3 separate regions of the Homo sapiens genome follow, and all the other regions are linked to region 3. The links come from fine-mapping of genetic effects on gene expression. A gene starts in region 3. Each other region holds a variant in brackets. All regions are shown on one strand. Distances are between the middles of the regions. Region 1 has its middle 9.7 kb from the start of TRAF3IP1. Region 2 overlaps LINC01107 (long intergenic non-protein coding RNA 1107). Region 3 holds the start of LINC02610 (long intergenic non-protein coding RNA 2610).

Region 1 (10,069 bases), 80 kb after region 3:
GGCTCACGCCTGTAACCCTAGCACTTTCAGAGGCTGAGGCGGGTGGATCACCTGAGGTCAGGAGTTCGAGACCAGCCTGACCAACATGGTGAAACCCTCTCTCTACTAAAAATACAAAAAAAATTAGCTGGGCCTGGTGGCGGGCACCTGTAATCCCAGCTGCTCGGGAGGCTGAGGCAAGAGAATCACTTGAACCCAGGAGGTGGAGGTTGCAGTGAGCCAAGATCGCACAATCGCACTCCAGCCTGGGCAACAGAGCGAAATTCCATCTCAAAAAAAAAAAAAAAAAAAAAAGTGGAAGAGGGAGCCAGGAGGGCCAAAGTCCGAGAAGAAGGCGTGGCCATAGAAACAGACGTTAAAATGATGTCGTTTCTGGAAAGGGTGCATGAGCCAGAGAATGCAGGTAGCTTCTAGAAGCTGAAAAAGGAGAAGAAATGGATTCTCCCCTAGAGCCTCCAGAAGGATTACAGCCCTGACCACACCTTGACTTCAGCCCAGTAACACCCAGTTTCAGCTCTGACCTCCAGAATTGTAAGAGATTCCATTTGTGTTGTTTTAAACTCCCAAGTTTTTGGAAATTGGTTACAGCAGCAACAATGAACTAATACACCAAGTTTCTGTCCATGGGGAGATTGGGAGAGGCAGTCTGTCAGCACTGCCTTTCAGGGAGGCCCCGGAGTGAGGCTGCAGTGCAGCAGCTATCTATTTTTAGGCATTTTTTGCATCCCACACTGAGCCAACCCATGCATGAACCAAGCTCGGCCTATTTCTTCCTCCACTAGGTGGTCATAAGTGACACCGCCACCCAACACAGCAGTGATGAAGGTGAGGGACCTCCAGTGGTGCAACAGAGGCAGATGATAGGAGGGTCTTGTGCAGTTTATCTGTGGCTCTGGCCCTGCATAAGCCCAGTGCTGGATGTGCCCTTTCATCTTATCATAGATTTCTGTCGAGCATGCCTGACCTATGCCCTGGAGGCCCTGGCAGAGCCCGGCTCAAGGCAGGCAGCTCTAGTGGTGTGATCACCGCTTGGTGTCTTCCGCTCTGCTAGGGTGCAGAGGCATACCAGCATCTGTCTTCCTTTGCTGCAGATAGCGTGGCCTTACTCCAGAACCCCCAGGGTCCAGGTTGTGATTCTCCCACTGGGGGTTTGCCATGAAGTTATCACACACTCAGAGATTTAAAGCAACAAGGCATCTTTTCCACCATAGGTATCTCTAGAACCATAGCATCTTCCAGATCATTTGGCCTAATTTGCTGGATTGCTAGCACCATAGCCTGTGCCCACTGCAGCGTTCTTCCCCATGCTGGCAGCCTTTCACACCACCTGGTAAATGTGACCACGCAGTATTCCCAAGTGTGGCACGTGCTGCCTCCAGAACCCACAGAGGCGACCAGTCCTCGTGGTCCTTCTTAGTGGTGGGAAGTACACAATGTAGTCCTTCCTTCACTGTGGAGATGCCTGTTAAGCTCCAACCACTGGGCCCCTAAAAACTTCACCGATGCAGCAGACGCCTGGAACTTCACAGGGTTTCTCTCCCACCCTCTGCAGCACACGCACCTTAATAAGGCCTCTGAGGTTTCTCCTCGTCAATCTGGTCATCCAGTTTAATTAATAGGATATCAGTATACTGAACCAGTGCAGCATTGTGCAGAGTGTCTGGTCCATCCAGACTATATTAGGAAAGAGGGAAAAGAGTTAATATGGCCCTGGGGTGAGACAATCAGTGTGTATTCTTCTTCTTCTTCTTCTTTTTTGTTTTCTTAAGACGGAGTCTCAATCTGTTGCCCAGGCTGGAGTGCAGTGGTGCAATCTCGGCTCACTGCAACCTCCACCTCCCAGGTTCAAGCGATTCTCCTGCCTCGGCCTCCTGAATAGCTGGGATTACAAGCGCCCACCGCACCCGGCTAATTTTGTGTATTTTTAGTAGAGATGGGGTTTCACCATGTTGGCCAGGCTGGTCTCAAACTCATGACCTCAGGTGATCTGATGATCTGCCCACCTCAGATCCAAAGTGCTGGGATTATTGGTGTGAGCCACCGTGCCCAGCCAATGTGTACTCTTATCCATCCTAAATGAATGTAAGCGGCTTCTGGTTCTCCTCTTAAGTAGGGATGGAAATGAATGTATTGGCTTCCTACCATGGACTTGAGATTGTGTTGACCTGCTATAGCAAAGATACCACAATTGGGGCTCCTATTTGTTTGGGTTTGCAGTATTCCACTGTCAATCCCCAGGATCCATGTGGTTTTTGCAGGGGTTTGGCTAATTAAATGACTCTATAATGGGGAGAAAGTATACCTGCATCCTTCAGGTTTTAACAGTGGAATCTATTCGTCCCTTATAATTGCTGTAACTCTCTTCAGCATGCAATATTGGTTTTTATTTACTGTCTTGGCTGGGGGAGGGGCAGTGTCAGGGATTCCCACTCAGCTTCCCAGGTCTATAGCTCTTATTCCACAATCCCAAGTATCTGGCCAACATGGGGTTACCCCATATGCCAAGTGTGTCCACTTCAATCATTGCATTTGAGGGCTCGGGAAATGACCACCAGGTGGCTCCATGGACCCTGTGGACCTACCAAAATCCAAAGTGGGGCTAGGGCTCTATCACCTGACCCCGTATGCCCTCCCTTTAACAGGAGTCAAGATGATGCTCCATGTCCCCAGGATTCTGTGTGCAATAGTCCTTGAAATGGTTCTGTATTCCCCCTCCCTGTGTATAGTTACTTGAATGAGTGGCCTTAGGTTTCTTTGGGGAAGGACTGTGGGGGAGATTTTGGCTCCCTGCACCGGCAGTGATGTTGGGAACCTGGCCTTTCAATGAGTTCTAGGTCCAAAACCAGGCAAGGGATTGTAGCGGGGGACTGGGGCAGCCACTCTCAGCCTCCTGCTCATCCATGTTTGATTTATTTTAGTTTCGAAAGCTCGGCCACACCCTTGCTGACTGCTCATTCCCCTGGTCCCTAGGAACATTTTGTTGTATTATCCGGCCGCATAGCTCTCTGCATGTCAGGTCTTCCTGGCTACCACTCTGACCTTGCCACTCTTGGCTATAAAAACCAATATTACATGCCAAATATTGTCACTTTGGTAAATGAAGTGACCTCCGAGCCCTCTCACAGGACACAGTGGGCTGGTAGGTTTGCTGGCCCAACATCACGTATGTGCTCTAGTAGGCTCATTTCCCTACCATCCTCCATGGTGGGGCTGGAAGTTTTCCTTCACTTAGTGAAGGCCATAGCTCTTTGCAGGTGTCCAAGAGCCATTCTAACAGCCCATTAGCACTGTCTCCCTGGGACCCAGCCAGGGTCACAAGCTTCTATCACGGAAAGTCCTCCCACATTCATCAACTCTTGTCTTATCCGTCTTTATATTCTGTCCCCTGCTGGGTCCAGCACTCTTGGGATGCAGTCCTGGATGTGCTCTCCTGGATCTTGCTGGTCCATGCTAGGCAGATCCTGCAGTTCCTTCGGAATAGAGTCCCTCCCTCCCTTAGCAGGCCAGCATGTCCTAGCTAGGTTATGTTGTTGTTTGACCCTCATGATTGGTCTGGTGTCAGGAGGGGGATATTGGCATAGATCCTGAAAAACGCATGCATTGTCTTGCAAGGCAGACATCTCTCTCTCTCTCTCCCCCCGCCCCCCAACTATAACACACACATTCTCTCTATATAAAACACTTCAAGAAAGGGGGTGCTAGCCTTTAACAGGAGCAGTGGGCCTCCTCTGTAGGTCCAGATGATTCAGGAGAATCTGGGGATTCTAGTTTGTTTGTTTGTTTGTTTGTTTGTTTTTGAGACAGTGGTCTCTCACGCCCACCCTGGGGGCTTCAGTTGAGCCGGTCAGTGGTGATTCAGCTCCGAAATCTCAATTTAGGGTCCATTTCCTCTGACCACTTCTGAGAGCAACTCTCTTGGGTAGAGATCTCTGGGAAACTGGGTTTGCACCCCCAACTCCATCAGCCCTTGAATGCGGGTGCCCATAGGGAGCAGGAGGCACAGTAGGCCCCTTTGGCTAAGTCTCCCCAGAAGGGAACCTGGCTGTGAGCCCACAGGGATCACTGCTTCTGGCAGCTGGGGCAGTGTGGGCCTCAGCCCTGAGTGGCACAGCACCCACCACAGGGCCAAGGCAGCCATAGCTGAGAGGGCCACGCCTTTTTTTTTTTGAGACGGAGTCTCGCTCTGTCACCCAGGCTGGAGTGCAGTGGCATGATCTCAGCTCACTGCAAGCTCCGCCTCCCGGGTTCATGCCCTTCTCCTGCCTCAGCCTCCTGCGTAGCTGGGACTACAAGCGCCCGCCACCACACCCGTCTAATTTTTTGTATTTTTAGTAGAGATGCGGTTTCACCGTGTTAGCCAGGATGGTCTCGATCTCCTGACCGCGTGATCTGCCCGCCTCGTCCCCCAAGAGTGCTGGGATTACAGGCGTAAGCCACTGCGCCTGGCCAGGTTTTGTTTCTGGCGCCCGGCTGCGCCACTCCTTTTTAAAGACTTCCTCCTTCCTCCTTCAGGCACCCACACGTTCATGCAGCCAGTATTCATGGGGTGCCCTGAGGAGACATATGGACCCTGTCCCAGCCTTCCTGGACCTTGTGCACTAGCTGGGGAAAGTCATGCCCTTGTTTAAGCATGGGCCAGGGGGAGCTGGACAGCACCGCCGGAGCTTGGAGGAGGACTCCTGGGGTCAGTGGGAGTCAACTGCAGGCTTTCAGGGAGTGGCAGGTGGGATATTTCAGGTTGGAGGGCTCAGTCAATTTACCTTCAACAAAAGTGCCAAGAGGCCAGAGGTAGTGGCTCACACCTGTAATTTTGGTATTTTAGGAGGCTGAGGTGGGAGGATAGCTTGACCCCAGGAGTTCAAGAGCAGCTTAGACAATATAGCAACATCCTATCTCTACAAAAAAAAATAAAAATTAGCTGATGGCCGGGCGCAGTGGCTCACGCTTGTAATCCCAGCATTTTGGGAGGCTGAGGCAGGTGGATCATTTGAGGTCAGGAGTTTGAGACCAGCTTGACCAATGTGGCGAAACCCCATCTCTACGAAAAACACAAAAAAATTAGCCGAGCGTGGTGGCACATGCCTGTAGTCCCAGCTACTCGGGGACGCTGAGGCAGGAGAATCGCTTGAACCCAGGAAGTGGAGGTTGCAGTGAGCCGAGATCGCACTACTGCACTCCAGCCTGTGCAACAGAGCGAGACTTCATCTCAAAAACAAACAGACAAAAAATTAGCTGAGCATGGTGGCACACGCCTGTAATCCCAGCTACTTCAGAGGCTGAGGTAGGAGGATTGCTTGAGCCCAGGAACTTGGGGTTACAGTGAACTATGGTTGTGTCATTGCACTCCAGTCTTGGACGCAGGGCAAGTGACACTCTGCCTCAAAAAAAAAAAATGCCAAGAACACACATTGGGGAAATGATGATTTCTTCAATAAACGGTGTTGGGAGAACTAGATCCATATGCAAAAGAATGAAACCAGACCCTCATCTTGCACCATATACAAAAATCAGCTCAAAATGGATTAAAGACTTAAATTTCAGACCCCAAACTATAAAACCATAGAAGAAAACATTGGGAAAAACCTTCTTGACAGTGGTCTGGGCAATGACTCTTTGAATAGGACCCCAAAAGTACAGGCTGTGGAAGCAGA[A/G]ATAGGCAAATGGGATAATATCAAACTAAAACGCTTCTGTACAGCAAAGGATACAATCAGCAGAGTGAAGAGACAATGAGCAGAATGGGAGAAAATATTTGCAAATTATACATCTGATAAAGGGTTAATATCCAAAATATATAAAGAACTCAAACAAGTCCATGGCGAGGAGAACAAATAACCCAATTCAAAAATGGGTGAAGGACTCAAATAGGCATTTCTCAAAAGAAGGCACACAGATAAATGGCCAACAGGCATATGAAAAAATGCTCAATATTACCAATCATCAGGAAAAGGCAAATTAAAACCACAAGTCATTATCATCTCACATGTGGGAGAAAGTTATGATCAAAGAGACAAAGGATAACAATGTCAGTGAGGATATGGAGAAAGGGAACCCCATACACTGTTGGTGGGGATGGGAATTAGCGCAGCCATTATTGAAAACAATATAAAAGTTCCTCAAAGAACTACCAATAGAACTACCTTATTTTATTTATGTATTTATTTACTTTTGAGACTGAGTCTCACTCTGTTGCCCAGGCTAGAATGCAGTGGCATGATCTCAGATCACTGCAACCTCCACCTCCTGAGTTCGAGTGATTCTCGTGCCTCAGCCTCCCGAGTAGCTGGGACTACAGGCGCATGCCACCACGGCTGGCTAATTTTTGTATTTTTAGTAGAGACGGGGTTTCACTCCATTGGCCAGGCTGGTCTCGAACTCCTGATCTCAAGTGATCCGCCTGCCTTGGCCTCCCAAAGTGCTGGGATTATAGGCATGAGCCACTGTGCCTGGCCAAAAAATAGAACTACCTTATGATCCAGCAGTCCTACTTCTGGGTAGATGCCTGAAGGATATGAAATCAGTATGTCAAAGAGGTAATTGTACTCCCATGGTCATCCCAGCATTATACACAATGGCCAAGACATGGTATGAACCTAAGTGTCCATTAGCAAATAAATGGAATACAGAAAATGTGGGATTTACACACCATGGAATACGAGTCAGCCTTAAAGAGGGAAATTCTGTCCTTTTCTTGGATGGATGAACATAGAGGACATTATGTTAAATGAAATAAGCTGGCCAGGTGCAGTGGCTCACGCCTGTAATCCCAGCACTTTGGGAGGCTGAGGCAGGCAGATCACTTGAGGTCAGGAGTTCAAGACCAGCCTGGCCAACATGGTGAAACCCCGTCTCTACTAAAAATACAAAGATTAGCCAGGCGTGGTGGCGGGCACCTGTAATCCAAGCTACTTGGGAGGCTGAGGCAGGAGAATCACTTAAACCCAGGAGGCAGAAGTTGCAGTGAACTGAGATCACACCACTGTACTCCAGCCTGGGCGACAGAGCGAGACTCCATGTCAAAAAAAAAAAAAAAAGAAAGAAAGAAAGAAAGAAAGAAGCCAGAAACAAAAAGACAAATATTGCATGATCTCAACTCATATGTGGAATCCAAAGTTGAACTCATAGAAGCAGAGAGTAGAATGGTGGTTGTCAGGGACTGGGGAGTGTTTGTGTGTATGAAATGCGGGTATGTTGGTTAAAGGGTACAACATTTCAGTTGGACAGGCTGAGTAAATCCTGGAGATTAATGTATAGCATGGTAACTGTAGTTAGTAATAATGTATTAATTATATACTTGAAAATTCCTGAGAGAGATCTTACACGGTCTCACTGCAAAAAAAGATGAGAGGAAATGGATATATGAATTTGCTTATTTTAATCATTTCCCAATATATACATAAATCAAAACATCATTTTGTACACTGTAAATATATACAATTTTTATTTGCCAATTATACCTTTGTAAAGCTGCAGGGAAGGGGAAGAAAAAATAAATGACATGGCAAAAATATAAAACTAAATTACAAAAATAATAAAACGTGCTCTGTGTAACTTAATCAGAGTGGAGAGTATCTGCCAGGAGTATAAGTAGGGGCTCCCTTGAGACACCTGAAAACTTCTTACTCATGGTGGTCTCTCTTCTCAGATGTGGTTGGGGCCTGTGGCGTGCAGGATTCCCCAGCTCCACCCTCCTGGTGTCATCTTTGCATTGACTGGGGCAAAGGAAGGGTGTCTTGGGCTGCCTGGGGAGGCAGAATCTTACACCCCTCACCCAAGAGTGGCTACTTACCAGCAGAGCTTAAGATTGTTGGGAAATTGGCATGGGTGGCTCAGAGGCCTTTGGTGGATGATGGGACCCAGGCCCCTGCCCCTTCAAAGTCATGGGACCCTCCTGGAAGGGCCTGAGGGCCTGTGAGAGGGAGGGTAGTGAATCTTTCCCTCGGACTGCCCATGGGGGAGAGCTCCAAGTATTATGGTCTGCTCGCTATGTATTGCACCCCCATACCCTTTGTGGGACCCAGAGGGCCGTCCAGCTTGCACAAGGCAGACATAAAGATTCAGTGACGGGGGTCGGGGGGTGAGAATATCTGAGCTGGATTTCAGAAAGGTGGGGGACCTTCTTTTGTACCCCAAGCTGGGGAAGCAGATGCGACAGTCACAGCAAACACTTCCTGCTTGTGATGGAACTCTGTTTCTGCTGGGCCTCTTGGGCCTAGTTCCCCTGTCTCTGCCCAGTGGACATGCATTTGCTCCATAGTGACCCCCCACCCCACTTCCTTGTGGATCCAGGGCTGGTGAGCCCATCTGCAGCTCTGCACTTCTCTGACCTGGTATCTGCTCCCCAGCCCTTCCCAAAGCCTGACCCACATCTTGGGCTCTTGGTAGAAATGGAGTTCAGGGTGGGGCCAAGTCAGCCTCCCCAGGCCTTTGTCTCTGGGAATGTCTGCCTCCCGGTGAGGGGAGGCAGGGCCTGGAAGACACATTGGAAGCTTTGTGGCTTCTCTCTCCTGGAGCGAGTCAGGGCCATGGTTATCATTCATTCAGAAACTGTTCATTTCAAAACATCTCCTGCCAGCCTTTTATGTTTCCAACACTTTCTTTGCTGTGATTTTCTATAGTTGTTTAATCAATTATCTTTTTTTTTTTTTTTATGAATGACTCTTTTTTATGTTCTCTGCCTTTCCCTCTGATGCTTTTAGGACTCTGAGAAGCTTAGGGGTAATTTAGGGTACATCGTCCCTCCTACCTTGTACCTGGCTTGGAGCCGTTAGAACTGGAGGCTTCAGGCTGCCCTCTGCACCCTCCTGCCCTGGGAGGCCCTGGTTGCAGGTCTCTTTCTTGGAGTCAGGAATCCTTAGCTGCCTCTTCTTAGGCCTGCTTTCCAAGCACCCCGGATGCCCATCCGCCCTCCCGCTCTGTGCAGAGGGTGAGGACTCACCTTGAGGCAGTGTTGGGGCCTCATGAGACACAGTGGGTGGCATGGAAGACAGTCCATGCTCCTCAAGCACTGCACTGTCCAGGGACGCATGTCCACTCCCTGGCCACCTCCCCGCCTCCGTAAGGATCTCGGTGGGACTGGGTGACTCTGCTCCCTTGTCCCAGATCTTCTCAGAGCTCCTGATGCCCAGGTGGGCAGGAGGGTCTCTGATGGCTCACAGTTCCAAACAGCCAGGCCCTGTGCCCTCAAGGCCTCCACAAGGCCTTGGCCCACACGGCTCCTGCTCTCCATAGGCTGGGGGAGAGATAGGAACCAGCTTCCCCTTTGAGCAGCACTGGTTCAGGGTCCGAACCTCAGGGGCCCAAGTGTTCTCCAGGCCACACCTACCTCTCCCACCACTCAGGCTGGCCACTGTCAGACAAGCGGGTTTCTGGCCATCAGGCCCAGAGGAGGATACTGCCCAGATGGGACTTTCTGGGGCGGGGGCCGGGGAGCTCTGCTCTTGGGAACATTGTTCCGAAGGCAGGGCGCTTGTGGTCTCTGTGCTCCTTCCACCGCTGCTCAGGCTGACCCCAGCCAGCTCAGAGCTCAGAGACGGATGGGCCCTTGCAGGAGCCTCTTGGCTCCCAGCTTGGCCATGGTGGGCAGATCAGGGAAGGCGGCCCAGCCGGGCTTCCTCCAGTTTGGGAAGACTCTCCCGCTTTCAGCCACCACAGCATCACCTGCATCTGGTGCAGCACCCCTGGAGGGCCCTGTCATCCTGTGAAGATGACCGCCCTCTCTCTAACACCTGGGAGCAGGAGGCTGCTGCAGTCTTGTCTAAGGGCTTCATCGTTTCAGAGCTTTAGGCCAGCCTCTGCGAAATGAGGGCCCAGCCACGAAGAAGTACAGTCTCACCATGCTCCTCCCCTATAAAAACTTTCAGGGAGGCCTGAGGAGAGGTTGGGTGGTGGGCAGGAAAGGTGAAATGCAGGAATGAAGGGAGCTAACAGCATTCTCCATGTTCATGGGAAGTGTTAGTTTCACTGGGTGGGGGATGTTGGCAAATGACAGGGCAGTATGGAAACTATTTATTTTTCTTTATGGGGTTTGATGAACTGTTTAATTAATGCTTGTTCTTGGGAAGGAGGTACG
Region 2 (10,069 bases), 300 kb after region 3:
GTAATCCCAGCACTTTGGGAGGCTGAGGTGGGAGGATCACTTGAGGTTAGGAGTTTGAGACCAGCCTTGGAAACATAGCAATACCCCATCTCTATTAAAATAGTAATTTAAAAAATTAGCCAGGCATGATGGTGCACCTGCAGTCCCAGCTACTTGCGAGGCTGGGGTGGGAGGATCGCTTGAGCCTGGGAGGTTGAGGCTGCAATGAGCCATGACGGCACCACTGCACTCCCACCTGGGTGCCAGAGTGGGACCTTATTTCTGAATAAAAAGTACATGCTTAAAATTAAAGGGGCTTCTTGTTAATCATTGGAAATGGATATAATCCAAAGTCCGTAGCTACTAGGCACCTACCACCTTCATCATCATGGTACCATTTGAAGCTCCCCTCTGTGCTGGGGACCAATGGCTCTGAGACCATCATGGCTGTGCCTGGCAGTGCAGGAGCAGAGAGCTGACATGTGTGTCCCTCAATCAGAGACATGGATAAGATGGCACCCTGATGGGAGGGTGAGGGTCCAGAGAGCCAGTAAATCCACAGCCATGTGGCCGGTCATGGAACAAGATTGGCCAAGAAAGAAGGTTTTAGAAGGTAAGAGGTTCATTTCAGATCTTCCCTTAAAGGTGCCCTGAGGCATCTTTTTTAACAAGAGCACCAAAGAGGAGGTTTCTGGTAGGCAGCTCGCTCCTGAACGCTGAGCAGAACGGGCCGGCCATGCCAGGTGCTGCTTTGCTTTGTTTGAACAAAGGTCCTGGGGTCCTCACAGTGAGACACGGTTCTCACTTCCCATCTCTGCTCTCAAGGCCTTTGTGATCTTTGTGCTATCCTACTGAAGACAGGTAGAGGAGAGGAACAGAGGACCCCAAACAAGTCCCTGTTCAGCCTGGACACCTGGGAAAGGGAGGAGTGTGGAAGAGGGAAGGAAGTTAGCTGGGGGACAGTGAACACCAATGTATGTGCAGATTCAATCAGCAGCGATCTGTGAGTCAGAGGCTCTCAACATGCTCCAAAGCAAAGCTGGGTAAACACTGCCACTTTTTGTTTGCGTTGAGTTAGCTGCCTGCAAGCATATTAGGAAACCCTGACAAAGAGCATTCTAAATGCATGTGGTGCCTTTGAGTTTATTTGTCTCAATTTATTCCAGTTACATTTGAGCATGACATGATTATACATCTCACACTGACTGAAGACTGTGGGCCTGCGTGGCAGGCAGGGGAAGAAGGGGGGAGGAAGAGGGTTTCCTAGCGCCATCTAATTTAAAGCACCTTTAGCTGAGTGGTGCAGTGAAAAGGATGTGGCTAAAACAAATAAAAATCATAGCAGGATCAAAGTACACACACAAATTTATTCCTTCTGGAAGCAGCTTCTCTTTCCCTTTCCCCCTCTCTCCTTCCCTTGTTTTCCCCTCCTTTGAGTCCCAGCGATTCTTTCATGGCAGAACTCCAGGATGGCCTCGTCTCCTTGCAGCACAATCACAGTTTCATCTCTGATTGATGGGGCGAAGGCACCGGCACCGCGGGTTTGAAGGAGATCTAAGGGCCTTCCTAATTTCATGGTGGGCATGTGAAGTGTCACATTAATCAGCGCTCTTTATGAGCAGTTCAAAGAGTCATAGATGTTGGGAAGGTGGCTGTTTGAAGCACAGAGCCAAGGGATTTCAGGATTTTATCAACAACCTGGGGGTTCCACCTCCTCTCCCCAGTGCACCTCTTGCCTGACTGCTGGGTGGAATTTTACATGAGAATCATACGGAGCTAAAGGAACCTACGATACCATCCAGTTCCAACCCATACTTTACATAGGAATCAGCAGAGGCTGGGAGTCTCTCTTGGGGTCACACAGAAAGCCATCTAGTCTGGAAGCAGTGGGTTATTCAAGCCTCCTGGTTGCGTGTGACAACTCAAATGAGGTTAAGCACTGATATAGTTTGGCTCTGTGTCCCCAACCAAATCTCATGTCGAATTGTAATTCCCAGTGTTGGGGAAGTGGGCTGGTTGGAGGTGATTGGATCATGGGGGCAGATTTCCCCCTTGCATTCTTGTGATGGTGAATGAGTTCTCAGGAGACCTGGTTGTTTGAAAGTGTGTGGCACCTCCCTCTTTGCTCTCTTCCTCCTTCTCCAGACACATGAAGACGTGCCCGCTTCCCCTTTGCTTTCTGCCATGATTGTAAGTTTCCTGAGGCGTCCCCAGCCCTGCAGAACTGTGAGTAATTTAAACCTCTTTCCTTTATAAATTACCCAGTCTCAGGCAGTTCTTCATAGCAGCATGAGAATGGAATAAAACAGTAAATTGATACTGGGTAGTGGGGCGCTGCTATAAAGATACTAAAAAACGTGGAAGTGACTTTGGAACTGGGTAACAGGCAGAGGTTGGAACAGTTTGGAGGGCTCAGAAGAAGACAGGAAGATGTCTTCCAGGAAAGTTGGAACTTCCTAGAGACTTGTTTAATGGTTTTGACCAAAATGCTGATAGTGATGTGGACAATGAAGTCCTGGCTGAGGTGGTCTCAGATGGAGATGAAGAACTTTTTGGGAACTGGAATAAAGGTGACTCTTGCTACATTTTAGCAAAGAGACTGGCAGTATTTTGCCCTTGCCCTAAAGATCTGTGGAATTTTGAACTTGAGAGAGATGATTTAGGGTATCTGGCAGAAGAAATTTCTGAGCAGCAAAGCATTCAAGAGGTGACTTGGGTGCTGTTAAAAGCATTCAGTTTTATGTACTCACAAATATATGGTTTGGAATTAAAACTTATGTTTAAAAGGGAACCAGAACATAAAACTTAGGAAAATTTGCAGCCTGATGATGCGATAGAAAAGAAAAACCCATTTTTGGAGAAGAAATTCAAGCCAGCTAGATAAATTTGCATCAGTAACGAAAAGCCAAATGTTAATCACCAAGACAATGGGGAAACTGTCTCCAGGGCATGTCAGAGTTCTTCACAGCAGTCCCTCCCATCACAGGCCCAGAGGCCTAGGAGGAAAAAAGGGTTTCACGGGCTAGGCCTAGGGCCTTGCTGCTTTGTGTAGTATAGGGATTTGGTGATAGTGAGTTCCAGCTGTGGCTCAAGGGGCCAACATAGAGCTCAGGCTGTTGCTTCAGAGGGTGCAAGCCCCAAGCCTTGGTGGCTTACACGTGGTCTTGGACCTGTGGGTGTACAGGAGTCAAGAATTGAGGTTTGGGAACCTCAGCTTAGATTTCAGAGGATGTATGGAAATACCTGGATGTACAGGCAGAAGTCTGCTGTAGGGGCAAAGCCCTCATGGAGAACCTCTGCTAGGGCATTGAAGAAGGGAGATGTGGGATTGGAGCCCCCACAGGGAGTCCCCATGGGGGTGCTGCCCGGTTGAACTGTGAGAGGAGGGCCACCGTCCTTCAGACCCCAGAATGGTAGATCCGCTGACAGCTTGCACTGTGCACCTGGAAATGCCTCAGACACTCAATGCCATCTTGTGAAAGCAAAGCCACAGGGGTGAAGCAGTCCAAGGCCATGGGAGCCCACCTCTTGCATCAGCGTGACCTGATGTGAGACATGGAGTTGAAGGAGATTATTCTGGAACTTTAAGGTTTGGTTACTGCCCTGTTGGATTTTGGACTTGGGTGGGGCCTGGAGCCTCTTTGTTTTGGCCAATTTCTCTCATTTGGAATGGGTGTATTTGTCCAATGCCTGTATCTCCATTGTATCTTGGAAGTAATTAACTCACTTTTGATTTTACAGGCTCATAGGCGAAGGAATTTGCCTTGTCTCAGATGAGACTTTAGATTTGGACTTTGGGGATAATGATGGAATGAATTAAGACTTTGGGGGACTGTTGGAAGTACATAATTGTGTTTTGAAATGTGAGGACATATTTTAAAGGGACCATGAATGGAATAACATGTTTTGGCTGTGTCCCACCCAAATCTCATCTTGAATTGTAGTTCTCATAATCCCCATGTGTCATGGGAGGGACCTGGTGGGAGGTAATTAAATCATGGGGGTGTTTATTAGTCTGATCTCACACTGCTATAAAGAACTGCCCAAGACTGGGTAATTTATAAAGAAAGAAGGTTTAAATGACTCATAGTTCTGTGGGGCTGAGGAGGCCTCAAACAACTTACAATCAAAGTGGAAGGAAGTAAACACATCCTTCTTTACAGGATGGCAGGAAGGAGAAGTGCCAAGTAAATGGGGGAAAAGCTCCTTATAAAACCATCAGATCTGAAAACTCACTCACTGTCATGAAAACAGCATGGAGGTAACTCCCTCCATGATTCAGTTACCTCCCACAGGGTCCCTTCTATGACATGTGGGGATTATGGGAGCTACAATTCAAGATGAGATTTGGGTGGGGACATGACCAAACCATATCACTGCACCTCAGGGATGATCCAAGACACCTCCTGGTACAGTGCTCACACCTCAGGGATGACCCAAGACATCTCCTAGTGTAGTGGTCCTACCTCAGGGATGATTCAAGACACCTTGTGGTGCAGTGCTCACACTTCAGAAATGATCCAAGAAACCTCCTGGTGTAGTGATCCTACCTCAGGGATGATCCAAGACATCTCCTGGTGCAGTGCTCACACCTCAGGGATGATTGAAGACACCTCCTGGTGCAGTGCTCCCACCTCAGGGATGATCCAAGACACCTCCTTGTGCAGTGCTCACAATTCAGGGCTGATCCAAGACACCTCCTGATACAGTGCTCACAACTCAGGCATAATCCAAGACACCCCCTGGCACAGTACTCCCTTCTTAGGGATGAGCCAAGACAACTGCTTGTGCAGTGCTCACACCTTAGGCAGAATCCAAGACACTTGCTGGTGCAGTGTTCTGACCTCAAGGATGATAAAATACACTTCCTGGTGCAGTGCTGACAATTCAGGCATCATCCAAGAGACCTTCTGGTGCGGTGCCTACATGTCAGGTTTGATCCAAACATCTCCTGGTGTAGTGCTCTGACCTCGGGGATGATACAAGATACCTCCTGGTGCAGTACTCACACCTCAGGAATGATCCAAGACAACTCCTGGTGCAGTGCTTCCACCTCAGGGATGATCCAAGACACCTCGTGGTGTGGTACTCCCACCTCAAAGATGATCCAAGACTCCTCTTGGGGTAGTGCTCCCACCTAGGGATGATCCAAAACACCTCCTAGTGCAGTGCATACATCT[C/G]AGGCATGATCAAAGACACCTCCTGGTGCAGTGCTCAAGCCTTAGGGATGATTCGTGATGCCTTTTGATGTAGTGTTCACACTTCAGGGATGATCCAATACACCTTCTGGTGCAGTGCTCCCTCCACAGGGATGATACAGGACACCTCCTGGTACAATGGTCACACCTCAGAAGTTATTCAAGACAGCTCCTGGTGCAGTGCTCACACCTCAGAGATGAATCAAGACACCTGGTGCAGTGCTCACACCTCAGGGATGAATCAAGACACCTCCTGGTGTAGTGCTCACACCTCAGGGCTGATTCAAGACACCTGGTGCAGCACCTGCACCTCAGAAATGATTCAAGATACCTCCTGGTACAGTGCCTGCACCTCAGGGATGATCTGAGACATCTCCTGATGCAATGTTCACACCCCAAGGATGATCCAAGACACCTACTGGTGCAGTGCTCACACCTCAGCGATGATTCACAACACCTCCTGGTGCAGTGCTTACACTTCAGCGACGATCCAAGACACCTCATGATGCAGTGCCTGCACCTCAGAAATGATCCAAGACACCTCCTGGTGTAGTGCTCCCTCCTCAGGGATGATCCAAGACACCCCTCGTGTAGCGCTCCCACCTAAAGGACGATCTGAGACATCTGCTGGTGCATTGCTTGCATCTTAGCAATGATCCAAGACACCTTCTGGTGCAGTGCTCACAAGTCAGGTTGATCTAAGACACTTCCTTGTGCAGTGCTTCCACCTCAGCAATGATACAAGACACCTCCTGGTGCAGTGATCCCCCTTCATGGATGATTGAGGACACATCCTGTTGCAGTGCTCACACCTCAGGGATGATCCAAGACACTTCCTGTTGCAGTGCTCACACCTCAGGGTAGATCCAAGATACCTCCTGGTGCGCTACACTCTCCTCAAAAATCATTCCAGATACCTCCTGGTGCAGTGCTCACACCTCAGCGATGATCCAAGAGATCTCCTGATGCAGTGCTCCCACATCAGGGATGATCCAAGACACCTTCTGGTGCACTGCCTCCATCCCAGGGTTGATCCAAGACACCTTCTGGTGCAGTGCTTATACCACAGGGATGATCCAAGACACCTCCTGTTGCAACTGAGACATGATCCAAGATGCCTCCTGGTGCAGTGGTCACTTTTCAGCATGATTTAAGACACCTCCTGGTGTAGTGCTCAAACCTCAGAGATGATTTAAGACACGTCCTGGTGCAGTGCTCACAACTCAGACATGATCCAAGACACTTCCTGGTGAGGTGTTCACATCTCAGGGATGATCCAAGATACCTCCTGGTGAGGTGCTCACACCTCAGGGATGAATCAAGACACCTCCTGGTTTAGTGCTCACAATTCAGGGATGATCCTAGATATCCTGGTGCAGTGCTCACACTGCAGGCATGACATAAGACACTTCTGGGTGCAATGTTCACACCTCAGGGATGATCCAAGACACCTCCTGGTGCAATGCTCACACCTCAGGGATGATCCAAAATACCTCCTGATGCAGTGCTCACAACTCAGACATGATTCAAAATATCTCCTGGTGCAGTGCTCACACTCAGGCATAATACAAGAAACCTGGTGCGGTGCTGAGACCTTATGGATGACCCCAAACACCTCCTGGTGTAGTGCTCACACTCAGGGATGATCCAAGACAATTCCTGGTACAGTGCTCACACCTCAAGGGTGATCCAAAACACATCCTGATGCAGTGCCCACACAACTCAGGCATCATGCAAGGTACATCCTGGTGAGGTGCTCACACTCAGGCATGATCTAAGACACCTCCTGGTGCAGTGCTCACATCTCAAGCATTATCCAACACACTTCTTGGTGTAGTGCTCCCACCTTAGGGATGATGGAAAATACCTCCTTGTGCAGTTTTCACACTACAGGGATGATCCAAGACACCACCTCATGCAGTGCTCACACCTCAGGGATGCTCCAAAACACCTCTTGGTGCAGTGCTCACAACTCAGATATGATTTAAGACACCTCCTGGTGCAGTGATCACAACTCAGACATGATCCAAGATACCTCCTGGTGCAGTGCTCACACCTAGGGATGATCCAAAAAAACCACGTGGTGCAGTGCTCACACTCAGGCATGATCCAAGACACCTCTTGGAACAGTGCTCTCAACTCAGGGATGATCCAAGAGACCTCCTGGTCCAGTGCTCACACCTTAGGGATGATCCAAAACATCTTCTAATGCAGTGCTCACATCTCTGGCATGACTTGAGATACCTCCTGGTGCAGTGGTCACACCTAGGAATGAGCCAAAAAGACACCTGGTGCAGCGTTTGCACTCAGGAATAATACAAGACAGTCCTTTGTGCAGTGCTTACACCTCAGGGATGATCCAAGACATCTCCTGGTGCAGTGCTCACACATCAGGGATGATCCAAGACACCCCCTGGTGCAGTGCTTGCACCTCAGGGATGATCCAAAACACCTCATGATGCAGTGCTCACAACTCAGGCATGATTCAAAATACCTCCTGGTGCAGTGCTCACACTCAGGCATGATCCAACACAATTCCTGGTGTAGTGATCTCACCCCAGGGATGATTAAAAACACCTCTTTGTGTAATTCTCACACTACAGAGATGATCCAAGACACCACCTGGTGCAGTGCTCACACCTCAGGGATGTTCCAAAACACCCTCTGGTACAGTGGTCACAACTCAGGCATGATACAAAACACCTCCTAGTGCATGGGTCACACCTCAGACATGATATGACACTTCTGGGTGAAATGTTCACACCTCAGGTATGATGATCCAAAGACCTCCTGGTGCAGTGCTCTTACCTCAGGGATGATTCAAGACACCTCCTGTCACAGTGTTCACCCCTCAGGGATGATTCAAGACACCCCTGGTACAGTGATCCCACCTCAGAGATGATCCAAAACATCTCCTGATGCAGTGCTCACAACTCTGGCATGATGATGGTGCAGTGGTCACACCTAGGAATCATCCAAAAAACCACCTGGTGCAGTGTTCACACTCAGGCATAATACAAAACACTTCCTGGTGCAGTGCTCACACCTCAGGGATTATCCAAAACACATCCTGGTGCAGTGCCCACAAAACTCAGGCATGATCCAAGGTACATCCTGGTGAGGTGCTCACACTCAGGCATAATCTAAGACACCTCCTGGTGCAGTGCTCACACCTCAGGTATGTTCCAAAACATATCCTGGTGGAGTGGTCACAACTCAGGCATGATCCAAGACACCTCTTGGTGCAGTGCTTACACCTCAGGGATGCTCCAAAACACCTCTTGGTGCAGTGATCACAACTCAGATATGATTTAAGACATGTCCTGGTGCAGTGATCACAACTCATACATGATCAAAGGTACTTCCTGATGCAGTACTCACACCTAGGGGTGATACAAAAAACCCACCTGGTACAGTGCTCACACTCAGGCATGATCCAAGACACCTCCTGGTCCAGTGGTCACACCTCAGGGATGATCCAAAACATCTCCTGATGCAGTGCTCACAACTCTGGCATGATCCGAGATACCTCCTGGTGCAGCGGTCACACCTAGGAATTATCCAAAAAACTACCTGGTGAAGTATTCACACTCAGTCATAATACAAGACACTTCCTGGTGCACTGCTCACACCTCAGAGATGATTCAAAGCACCTGGTGGTGTAGTGCTGCACTCCAAGGGATGATCCAAGACACCTGTTACAGTACTCCCTCCTCAGGGATGAGTTAAGACACTTGCTGGTCAGGCACCATCAGGCACGATCCAAGACACTTGTGATGCAGTGCTCCGACCTCAGGAATAATGCAGAACAACTCCTGGTGCAGTGTACACACCTCAGGAATGACGCAAGACACCTCCTGGTGCAATGCTTACACATCAGGGATGATAAAAGACACTTCCTGATGCAGTGCTCAAACCTCAGGCATAATCCAAGAGACCTCCTGGTGCAGTGCCTGCACCTTAGGGATGATCAAAAACACCTCCTGGTGCAGTGCTGACACCTCAGGCATGATTTTAGACACTTCCTGGTGCAGTGTTCACACCTGAGGGATGATCCAATACACCTTCTGGTGCAGTGCTGCCACCTCAGGGATGATTCAAGAGACCTCCTTGTGCAGCGTCTGCACCTCAGATTTGATCCAAGACACCTCATGGTGTGTGATCCCATCTCAGGGATGATACAAGAGACCTCCTGGTACATGGGTCACACCTCAGGCATGATAAGACACTTCCGGGTGCAAAGTTCACACCTCAGGGATGATCCAAGACACCACTTGGTGTAGTGGTCTTTCCTCTGATGATTCAAGACATCTCCTGTAACAATCCTTACACCTCAGGAATGATTCAAGACACTCCCTGAGACAGTGATCCTACTTCAGGAATGATCCAAGACACCCCCAAGTGCAATGCTCACACTCAGGCATAATACAATCAGGCATAATACAAGACACCTTTTGGTGCAGTGCTCACACCTCAAGGATGACCCAAGACACCTCCTGGAGTAGTGTTCCCCCCACTCCAGGGATGATCCAAGACCCCTTTGGTGCAGTGCTCTTACCTTAGGGTTGATTCAAGATACCTCCTGGTGAAGTGCTCCTACCTCTGGAAAGATCCAAGACACCTGCTGGTGTAGTGCTCCTACCTCAGGGATGATGCAACATGCAAGCCACTTCCTGGTGCAGTGCTCCCACCTCAGGGATGCTCCATGACACCTCCTGGTGCACTTCTCACAATTCAGGGATGATCCTAGACACCTCCTGGTACAGTGCTCACACCTCAGGTGTGACACAAGACACCTCCTCGTGCAGTACTCCCTGCTCAGGGATGAGCCAAGACACCTGCTGGTGCAGTGCTCACACGTCAGGCATGATCCAAGGCACTTGCAGGTGCAA
Region 3 (10,069 bases):
AGTAAGGACAGAGTGAAGAGAGCGCTGCCCTCCCTGATGAGACCAGACCCACTCCTGGAGGGTAGGGACAGTGGCAAGAACACAGACACAGGTGGCTGCGTGGGGGCTGTGGTGGGCAGCCTGTGAGATGGCCCTCAACGCCCCCAACTCCTGGTCTGTCTGTCCTGTGGAACCTCCTCCCCGGGGCTGAACCTACACAAACAGAACACAGCAGAAACAGGGGAGAATTCCCTTCGGCTGCAGGAGCCCGCCTTCGCGGCTTGCTCAGCTATGCGGGAGCTGTGCCAAGGAAAGGTCCGTGCAGCAGAGAACTGAGCGAGGCCTCCAGCCAAACAGCAGAAAAGATCGAGGCCCTCACTCTAATAGCCCATGAGGAACTGAATCCTGCCCACAGGCGCGGGGCCAGCAGAGAAGCCGAGCCTCCCCGCACGGAGCGTGCAATCTACTCACAGTCCGGCCGGGCCCTGACTGAGGCCTCGGGAGGGACCTTGAGGCAGAGGCTCCTTCCCCGGGCCTGGATGTCTGACCCACAGACACTGTGCAGCTACGTTTGTTTGAAGGCACTAAACTGCGGGCAATTTGTTACACAGCAATCGACAACTTTCTGTTCCCTATTTCTGTTCTTTCTCTTCAACAGGGCTGGGTGTGGAGTGGCCCACTCCTGCCAGCCCTGCTCTGCGCACCCTCATGGGCTGAGCTGTGGGGTGAGCCGGGCCCTGTCTTCCTCCCTGCCCTGGCCCTGTCCCCCGATGCCCACCCCCGAGAGTGGGGAGGGCGGTGGGGCTGCGTGGACTCTGATAAGCCTTCCAGTTCCAACTGCCAGGGCGCTGCTGCCCAGGGAGCCGTGAGGAGCGAGGTCGGGCATGCACGAGCTCTGCCTCTGATGGTAAGAAGGGGAGAGAGGGAAATGGGGTGAAGCTAGCGAAGGCAGCACGCGCCCCAGGGCAGACCCCACGCGCCAACACAGCCAAATTCCCAGCAGTGGGAAGGCCCTGCACTTCACTCCTGCCCTGTCACTGGGAAATTCCCAAGTCAAGATGGGGAGCATGGTGGCGCCTGGGGTCTGAAAGGCAAGGCCCCCTCCTCTGTCTCATCCTCCAACCTCTACCTGTCCTGCAGGGCTCACATGCCACCTCCTCCAGGAAGCCTTCCTTCAGGAGCCTGCCTGTCAGAGGTCATCTCACCTTTTTCTCATCTCCCATGCCCTGTTGATTGTTCTCTCATTGCCTTGATTCCTATACACAAATGGTCAGGAAATGTCTGTCCCTCGGAAATTCCACTCTCCTTAAGACAGAGGCCCTGCTCCACCAGGAGCAGCTAAAATTTCCTATTGAGACTCCTCCTGGTTACAGGGGCACAGGTTGCCCCCAGGGATCTGTTCTCAGCTTCCCAAAGGCAGGGTGTGCCTCCTCCCACCTTCCCGCATGCTGCCGGTGCCACAGAACCTGTGCAGGGCCCAGGGGAGGCGCCCACACACTGTACTTGTAGGGCACAAAGGGACAGCCCTCTCTCTCCAGAAGTCCAGGGACTCAGCCTTGGTGCAGACTGGGTCTTAGGCAAGGCAAAGCCAGAGGACAGGATCTGCACGGACTTCTGGAAGAGGAACCAGCCAGCAGCCAGCCTCCTGAGAGGAGCTAGAGGTCTGGGGGTTCTCACCTGATCCTTAGCTAGAAAACTAGGGCTGGGCTCAGGGCGTGCCCCAGGGCTATTTTGTTCCATGCCATGTGCCGCTCCCAGGAGAAGTGGTACTTCTCCCTCCTGACTCTGTCCCCACCTCCCTAAACAAGCCTGTGGCCCTTTAACAAAGCCCAGAGTCCCATTAAAGATCCTGCCTGGTGCTGGTCCTCAGCTACATGGACTGGGTGGCCCTTTTTATAAGGAATGGCAGCATCAGTTCCCCCTTTCCAGCGGCCTTCTCCACAGGGCTGGCCTGACTCCCCACAGCACTCACCTGGGCAAGTGCGGGCCCATTCCCCGGCTGTCCTCCTGCTGTCCCCCGCAGGTCTTTCTCAGCATGGTGAACATGGGAGCCGGGGCTCTGTCTGCATGAGGGAGGTGCTCAGACCCTGCAGGGCGGGAACAAGGTGGAGGAAGTCGCTGGCGCTGCAGAAGCTGGGCAGTCACCCCCTCCACACCCACTACCAGGGAAGGGGCAGGAAGCATCAGGGGAGTCACCTGCTCTCGTCTGAGAGGGAGGTAGAGGCAGAGGGAGGCTAGAGAAAGACAAAGAAGGCAAGGCGGGGCAGAGGCAGGGAAAGCCCAGCAAAAGTGGGTTGGAGGAAGAGACAGAAACAGGGACGAGAGAATGAAAGAAACAGAGAGAGGCAGAGAGACAGGGAAGAGAGGAGAGAGGAAGGGAGCCAGAGAGAGGAAGAGAGAGCTGGTGAGATGGGGAACAGAAGGATATGAAGGCAGGGGAGGATGAAGACGCAAAGAGAACGAGGTGGAAACAAAGAGAAAGGGAATTCCAACCAACAGTAGGCACTGAGAAAACGGCTTTCCATGCTATTTCATTCAACCCTCAAAACAAGTAGGTACTACTGCCATTCCCATGATGTGGATGAAGAGACAACGGTTTAAGAGATAAAGAGGCAGGAGAGAGAAAATATGAGGCAGGAATACAGACAAGACAGAGACTGCGTATTCAAGGATCAAGAGACAACAGGCTGGGCGTGGTGGCTCACGCCTGTAATCCTAGCACTTTGGGAGGCTGAGGCAGGTGGATCACCTGAGGTCAGGAGTTCGAGGCCAGCCTGGCCAACATGGTGAAACTTCGTCTCTACTAAAAATACAAAAATTAGCTGGGTGTGGCGGCGGGCGCCTATAATCCCAGCTACTTGGGAGGCTGAGGCAGAAGAATTACTTGAACCCAGGAGGAGGAAGTTGCAGTGAGCGGAGATCGTGCCACTGCACTCCAGCCTGGACAACAAAGCACAAACTCTGTCTCAAAAAAAAAAAAAAAAAAAAAAAAAAAGACAACAACAACCCAACAGCCTAACTGCCCATAACAGCATAAACTTGAGAAGAAATGCTGTCTGTCTCCAGCAACTAGAAGAATGCCTGACAAAGAGCAGGCCTCCAGTTAACAACTGTGGAATGAACAAGCAAACATTATCTGGACTATGCCGTCAGGGAAATAAAAGAAGCCTTGGAAACTGCATAAAACGAGGAGTGACCAGGAAAGGCTTCAGGCAGGCAGTCTATCTGAGCCAAACCTGGAGGCATGCAGAGGGCAGAGCAGCGGCTTTGGCCATGCAGCAAACCAAATATCTGGCAAGGGCATGGAGACAGAAGGTGGTGGAGGGGGTGTGGAGGCAGTCAGTAAGTTCTGAGTTGGCCCACGTGAGGACCAGGCCTACTATTCTTTGAGAATCTGCAGTGTTGGGCTTTTGAAAAGACTGAAGCTCAGGGCGTAACCTTCAAGGTGGGGGTTTTCTTAATGACCACTGCCATTCTCCAGGTGACAGCCAAGAACCTGAACTACGAATGCAGGAGCCGGACAGGGGGAAAGGGACGTCTAAGACTCATCCTCTTGTTCGTTCAACCTGTTGAAGTGGCAGGATTGCCAGTTCCTGGACGCTACCTGCAGGGCTCCAGTGTCCCCTGGAACCTGGGAGGTCAAGGTTGCCCAGGCAGGGCTCCAGGGAGGTGTCTCCATGGACCGTCTGGTTTCCAGCCTGAAGGATTGATGCCCTTGTTGCTCTGAAGGATCCAGAACATGAAGGGAGGAGCAGGTTTTGTTGGAAAGCTGAGTTCACATTTGAACTTGTTGCAGAACCTGTGGGATTCCTGAGAGGCGACAGCCAGGGGCATTTGGATAAACTCTATGAGAGCTCCAGAGAGGGCTGGGCTGGAAATAGATTTTGCAGCTGGTAGCACAGCAGGTGAAGCCATGGAGATCATACAGATTACAGCCTAGAAGCTAGAGAAGAGGGCCTAGCAAAGAAATGTGGGGCACAATATTTAAGAAGACAATATTCGCCGGGCACGGTGGCTCATGCTTATAACCCCAGCACTTTGGGAGTGAGGCAGGTGGATTGCTGGACCAGCCTGGGCAACACTACAAACATCTCTCTCTACAAAAAAAATACAAAAATCAGCCAGGCATGGTGATGTGCGCCTATAGTCCCAGCTACTTAGGAGGCTGAGGTGGGAGGATCACTTGAGTCTGGGAGGTCGAGGTTGCAGTGAGCCATGATCGTACCACTGCACTCCAGCCTCCAGCCTGAGACAGAGTGAGAACCTGTCTCAAAAAAAAAAAAAAAAAAGACAACATTTAATATCCAGTTGTGAAGAGCCACTGCCAGAACCTGAGAAGGAATGGTGGAACAAGAAGAGCAAGAAGACTAGACAGAGAACAATTTTTTGAGATAAGGTCTCACTCCCATTGTCCAGGCCAGAGCACACTGGCGTGATCTCAATTCACCGCAGCCTTGACTTCCCGGGCTCCAGTGATACTCCCACCTCAGCCTCTCGAGTGGCTGGGACTACAGGTGCGGGCCACCATGTCTGGCTAATTTTTTGCATTTTTGGTAGAGATGGAGTCTTGCTATGTTGCCCAGGCTGGTCTTGAACTCCTGGGCTCAAGCGATCTGCCTAACTCAGCCTCCCAAAGTGCCGGGATTACAGGTGTGAGCCACCGTGCTCTGGCAAGAACAATGTTTTAAGAAGCATGAGGATGTTGAGTATCAAATGCCGCAAAGTTCGGGTGAGAAAACTGAAGAGTCTACTCGGCAATCAGGAGTTCATTGGAGACTCTGGCAGAAGTTTTCTATAGTAGAATGGCAGGAAATGTAGCCATACTGAAATTTTGTTAGGGACAAACAGGTGATGAGGAAATGAAGAAAATGAGAATGAAGACTGTTTTTAAGAAACTGGAGTGTGAAGAAAACAGTAGGACAATAAGTAAGAAACCTCAACGGGGTGTGAGGACAAGTTCCCCAGGATAAAGTGGATAAGATGGAGGTTGGCACTTAAGATTTGGAGCAGGTTCAACAGAGAGGAATGGCAAGGTTTGAGGGATGGTTCCTGACGTCTAAGGGCGCATTTAATATTCTTTCAAGGTTAAGGTGGGGCAAGATCTGGAGGAGAGAGGATAGTACCCCAAGTGTCATCATCCATTGACAGGTCAATAGGTAGTACAGCGACATGGGAACAGAGCAGGTGTGCACAGAAAGCATGGTTTCCCAGGGAGGGCAGTATTTTTCCATGAGGATGCAAGAGTGAAAAGCCTGGGAGATTCCACGAAGAGCTGAGGGGCTTCTGAGCCACAGCTTAAACCTTAACCCTCCTCCTCTCAGATACATTCAAATCCAAGTACTGATAATAATCTAGTAAGACCTGGGCTTCCCTGGCTACCGTCTATCAAGGAATGCCAGTGTCTGCCTCTGGGCAGTGCGCGTTGGATTTGGGTTCTCTGCGGGGTCTTGCTGATCTTAAAGACAATGCAGGGGCCTTGTGAGTCTCACCTCTGTACCCCCAGCACATAACAGGTGCTCAACACATTCGCGAGGGGAGCGCTGAGCAAAGCGGAGGCCCGGGTTCCCTCCTGGAGAAACCTGCTTCCCCTCCAAGGCCTCAAGCGTCCGCTCCTTCACTGACCTCAATCGTTGATTTCGGCTGCACTTCCTATCCCTGGGGGAGCTTTCAACGCTCCGCCGTCCAGGCCGCCGGGCCCCGCAGCCCGCGCCCCGCTCTCTAGGGCTGGGCCCCCAGGGGCTGGACGACCTCTCTCGCCTTCGCTTTCTCAAGCGTAAATCGGGCGGCGGGGGCTGCAGAGCCTTCATCTCTTCCTCCGTCCCGGGATGTCGGAGAGACGGCAGCCCAGCCTCCGCCACCGCAAAGCTGCTTAACGGGCAGCGCGAGTCCCTCGGGCACCGTTGGAGGCCGTTGCTCACCGTTGGGCAAGTGCTTTAAGAAGCACGAGGATGTCGAGTGTCAAATGCGGCAAAGGGCTCAGAGCTCGCCGCCAAGGGGCGTGGCCTCCGGGCCGCGGCGGCCTCTGGGAGTTGTAGTCCCGCCTCAACTTGTGGTGGCCTCTTTAAAAAAACAAAAAACAAACAAACAAAAAAACACTGGCGCTTGGGTCCGTCGCTGCCTCGGTGTCCCTGTCGGGCTTCCCAGCAGCGGCCTAGTGGAAAAGTAAAAGATGTCTGAATATATTCGGGTAACCGAAGATGAGAACGATGAGCCCATTGAAATACCATCGGAAGACGATGGGACGGTGCTGCTGTCCACGGTTACAGCCCAGTTTCCAGGGGCGTGTGGGCTTCGCTGCAGGAATCCGGTGTCTCAATGTATGAGAGGTGTCCGGCTGGTAGAAGGAATTCTGCATGCCCCCGATGCTGGCTGGAGAAATCCGGTGTATGTTGTCAACTATCCGAAAGATAACAAAAGAAAAATGGGTGAGACAGAAGCTTCATCAGCAGTGAAAGTGAAAAGACCAGTCCGATTTAATAGTGTTGGGTCTCCCATGGAAAACAACTGAACAGGACCTGAAAGAGTACTGTAGTACCTTTGGAGACGTTCTTATGGTGCGGCAAAGCCAAGATGAGCCTTTGAGAAGCAGAAAAGTGTTTGTGGGGCGCCGTACGGAGGACATGACTGAGGATGAGCTGTGGGAGTTCTTCTCTCAGTATGGGGATGTGATGGATGTCTTCGTCCCCAAGCCGTTCAGGGCCTTTGCCTTTGTTCCATTTGCAGATGATCAGATTGCGCGGTCTCTTTGTGGAGAGGACTCGATGAAAGGAATCAGCGTTCACATATCCAATGCCGAACCCAAGCGCAATAGCAATAGACAGCAAGAAGTGGAAGATTTGGTGGTAATCCAGGTGGCTTTGGGAATCAGGGTGGATTTGGTAAGAGTAGAGGGGGTGGAGCTGGTTTGGGAAACAATCAAGGTAGTAATATGGGTGGTGGGATAAACTTTGGTGCGTTCAGCATTAATCCAGCCATGATGGCTGCCCCCCAGGCAGTGCTGCAGAGCAGTTGGTGTACGATGGGTGTGTTAGCCAGCCAGCGAAGCAGCCAGGCCCATCGGATGATAACCAAAGCCAAGGCAACATGCAGAGGGAGCCAAACCAGGCCTTCGGTTCTGGAAATAACTCTTGTAGTGGTTCTAATTTTGGTGCAACAATTGGTTGGGGATCAGCATCCAATGCAGGGTCGGGCAGTGGTTTTAATGGCGGCTTTGGCTCAAGCATGGATTCTAAGTCTTCTGGCTGGGAACGTAGACAGTGGGGTTGTGGTTGGTTGGTATAGAATGGTTGGAATTCAAATTTTTCTAAACTCATGGTAAGTATATTGTAAAATACATATGTACTAAGAATTTTCAAAATTGGTTTCTTCAGTGTGGAGTATATTCAGTAGTATTTTTGACATTTTTCTTTAGAAAAAGGAACAGCTAAAGGAATTTTATAAGTTTTGTTACATGAAAGGTTGAAATATTGAGTGGTTGAAAGTGAACTGCTGTTTGCCTGATTGGTAAACCAACACACTACAATTGATATCAGAAGGTTTCTCCTGTAATATTTTATCCCTGGACTTGTCAAGTGAGTTCTTTGCATGTTCAAAATGGAAGCCATGAATTAGAACTACATTCTTTATTCCTTGTTTTAATTTGAACCCCACCATATGGATTTTTTTCCTTAAGAAAATCTCCTTTTAGAAGATCATGGTGTCACAGTTTGGTTCTTTTGTTTTGTTTTTTAACACTTGTCTCCCCTCAAACACAAAAGTACAATATGAAGCCTTCATTTAATCTCTGCAGTTCATCTCATTTCAAATGTTTATGGAAGAAGCACTTGGTTGAAAGTAGTGCTGTAAATATTCTGCCATAGGAACACTTCTGTCTACATGCCTTCTCATTCAAGAATTCGTCATCACGCATCACAGGCCGCGTCTTTGACGGTGGGTGTCCCATTTTTATCTGCTACTCTTTATTTCATAGAGTCGTATCAACGCTGTGAACGCAAGGCTGTGATATGGAACTAGAAGGCTGTTTGAACTTTTGAAACCTTGTGTGGGATTGACGGTGGTGCTGAGGCATGAAAGGCTAGTATGAGTGAGAAAAGGAGAGAGCACGTGCAGAGACTTGGTGGTGCATAACGGATATTTTTTAACTTGGCGAGATGTGTTTCTCAATCCTGCGGCTTTGGTGACAGTGTGCAGACAGCAATGATAGCAAATAATGTACGAATGTTTTTTGCATTCAAAGGACATCCACATCTGTTGGAAGACTTTGAGTTTTTGTTCTTAGATAACCCACTTTATTTGAATGTGTTAAGTGAAATGATACTTGTACTCCCCCTACCCCTTTGTCAACTGCTGTGAATGCTGTATGGTGTGTGTTCTCTTCTGTTACTGATATGTAAGTGTGGCAATGTGAACTGAAGCTGATGGGCTGAGAACATGGACTGAGCTTGTGGTGTGCTTTGCAGGAGGACTTGGAAGCAGAGTTCAGCAGTGAACTCTGGTGTCTCAAAGAAGGGTAGAAGTTCTAATGTCTGTTAGCTACCCATAAGAATGCTGTTTGCTGCAGTTCTGTGTCCTGTGCTTGGATGCTTTTTATAAGAGTTGTCATTGTTGGAAATTCTTAAATAAAACTGATTTAAAAAAAAAAAACCAAAAATCTAAGTAAAGGGGTCGGAACTACATCTCCCAGGAGGCCCCGCGGCTCGCCTCTGGCGGGGCGGGGCTGGAGGGGGCGTGGTCAAGGCCTCGGCTCCTCCGAGCGCCTCCCAGCTCACGGCGCCCCCCGAACCCGGCTCCAAGGGACTCGGTATTCCCCAGCGCCGGCTCCGGGCAGTCCCGGAAGGGCTCAAGGGCTGGGCGACTGGCTGATCGAGACCGTCCGGGTCCTGGCTCTCGGGTCACTTGCAGAGGCCTGAGCAGAGCGTAGGGAGGGCTGGAAGGGAGGAGCCCCGGGGGGCGGCGGTGCTGAACCGGGTAGAGTCTTGAAGGTCACGGTCAGGACTGGAGTGGGAGGGGAGTCAGAGGCCTGCTGCGGAGGCCCAGGTTAGAAACGAGGCTGCCTTGGACTCGGTCGGTGGCAAAGAAGACGACACGTGGAGGCAGGGCTTAGAAGTAGAGCTCCGCCGGGCTTGGTGGCTCACGCCTGTAATCCCAGCACTTTGGGAGGCCTAGGCGGGCAGATCACGAGGTCAGGCGATCGAGACCATCCTGGCTAACACGGTGAAACCCCGTCTCTACTAAAAATAGAAAAAATTAGCCGAGCGTGGTGGCTGGCGCCTGTAGTCCCAGCTACTTGGGAGGCTGAGGCAGGAGAATTGCTTGAACCCAGGAGGCGGAGGTTGCAGTGAGCCTAGATCTCCCCCACTGCACTCCAGCCTGGGCGACAGAGTGAGACTCCGTCTCAAAATAATAATAATAATAATAAATTAATAAATAAAAATAAAAAAGAAGAAGAAGTAGTGCTCATGGGCTTGACTGATAGGACGTGGGATGGCAGGAAGAGGGTGAACTTGAGGGTGACATCTAGATTTTTTTGCTCAATCCATGGGGTACCAAGAAGTGGTAATGCCTGAGGATCTGTTGTTTTGGTGGTGGTGTGAGCCCATCTGACATCTAAGTGCAGTCACTGAGTGGACAGGAGGATACAGAGGAGCCAGCCGCCTGGAGAGGGGCTTTGAATCAAGGGCATGGGATTGGCAAAACGGGCCAGATGGTGTCACTGGGTGTGGGGGCGGCAGGGAAGGCTGAGGACAGAGCCTTGGGAAGAACACGTCCAGTTGGAGGGCGGCAGGGAAGGCTGAGGACAGAGCCTTGGGAAGAACACGTCCAGTTGGAGGTCGGCAGGGAGGAGCATTGAGTACAGGGGACTGAGGATGGCCGATGAGGTAGAAAGAAGGCTGGTGTGGTGCCCTTGAGACTGGAGAAGGAGCCTCCAGATGGATGAGTCATAACCCACGAGAAGTGAAGCTGACATGCGGACATGCCCACTGGGTTGGGAAACATGCTCGTTACTAGAGATTTTGACTGTGCAGTTCCAGTGGAAGGGTGGACAATAGCTTGATTGGAAAGGAATGAAGAGGAATGGGATGCGTGGAAG

Evidence for each region. PIP is the estimated chance that this variant, and not a neighbour inherited with it, causes the effect. A credible set is the group of variants that fine-mapping cannot tell apart.
Region 1: its variant is the best candidate, but not a certain one, in a credible set for the expression of LINC02610 in spinal cord (GTEx, PIP 0.52).
Region 2: its variant is the best candidate, but not a certain one, in a credible set for the expression of LINC02610 in whole blood (Lepik 2017, PIP 0.84).

The regions. Positions count from the first base shown.
Region 1 is chr2:238,305,817-238,315,885 of GRCh38, forward strand. No RefSeq gene overlaps it. Among named protein-coding and RNA genes, the nearest start is that of TRAF3IP1, 9.7 kb to the right of the region's middle. RefSeq lists an enhancer at 9,236-9,735. The variant A/G (reference allele first, on the strand shown) is at 5,652.
Region 2 is chr2:238,528,455-238,538,523 of GRCh38, forward strand. The region is part of intron 2 of LINC01107 (long intergenic non-protein coding RNA 1107); the gene reads right to left. LOC124906130 (a long non-coding RNA gene) reads right to left here. Exons shown (of 2, transcript XR_007088215.1): 1 at 4,530-10,069; 2 at 1,327-3,522. Among named protein-coding and RNA genes, the nearest start is that of LINC01107, 22 kb to the right of the region's middle. The variant C/G (reference allele first, on the strand shown) is at 5,160.
Region 3 is chr2:238,225,733-238,235,801 of GRCh38, forward strand. It overlaps LINC02610 (long intergenic non-protein coding RNA 2610), which reads right to left and starts at 5,945. Exons shown (of 3, transcript NR_026926.1): 1 at 5,602-5,945; 2 at 1,952-2,066. It also overlaps the pseudogene TARDBPP3. RefSeq lists an enhancer at 8,510-9,011 and silencers at 8,712-8,841, 8,992-9,081.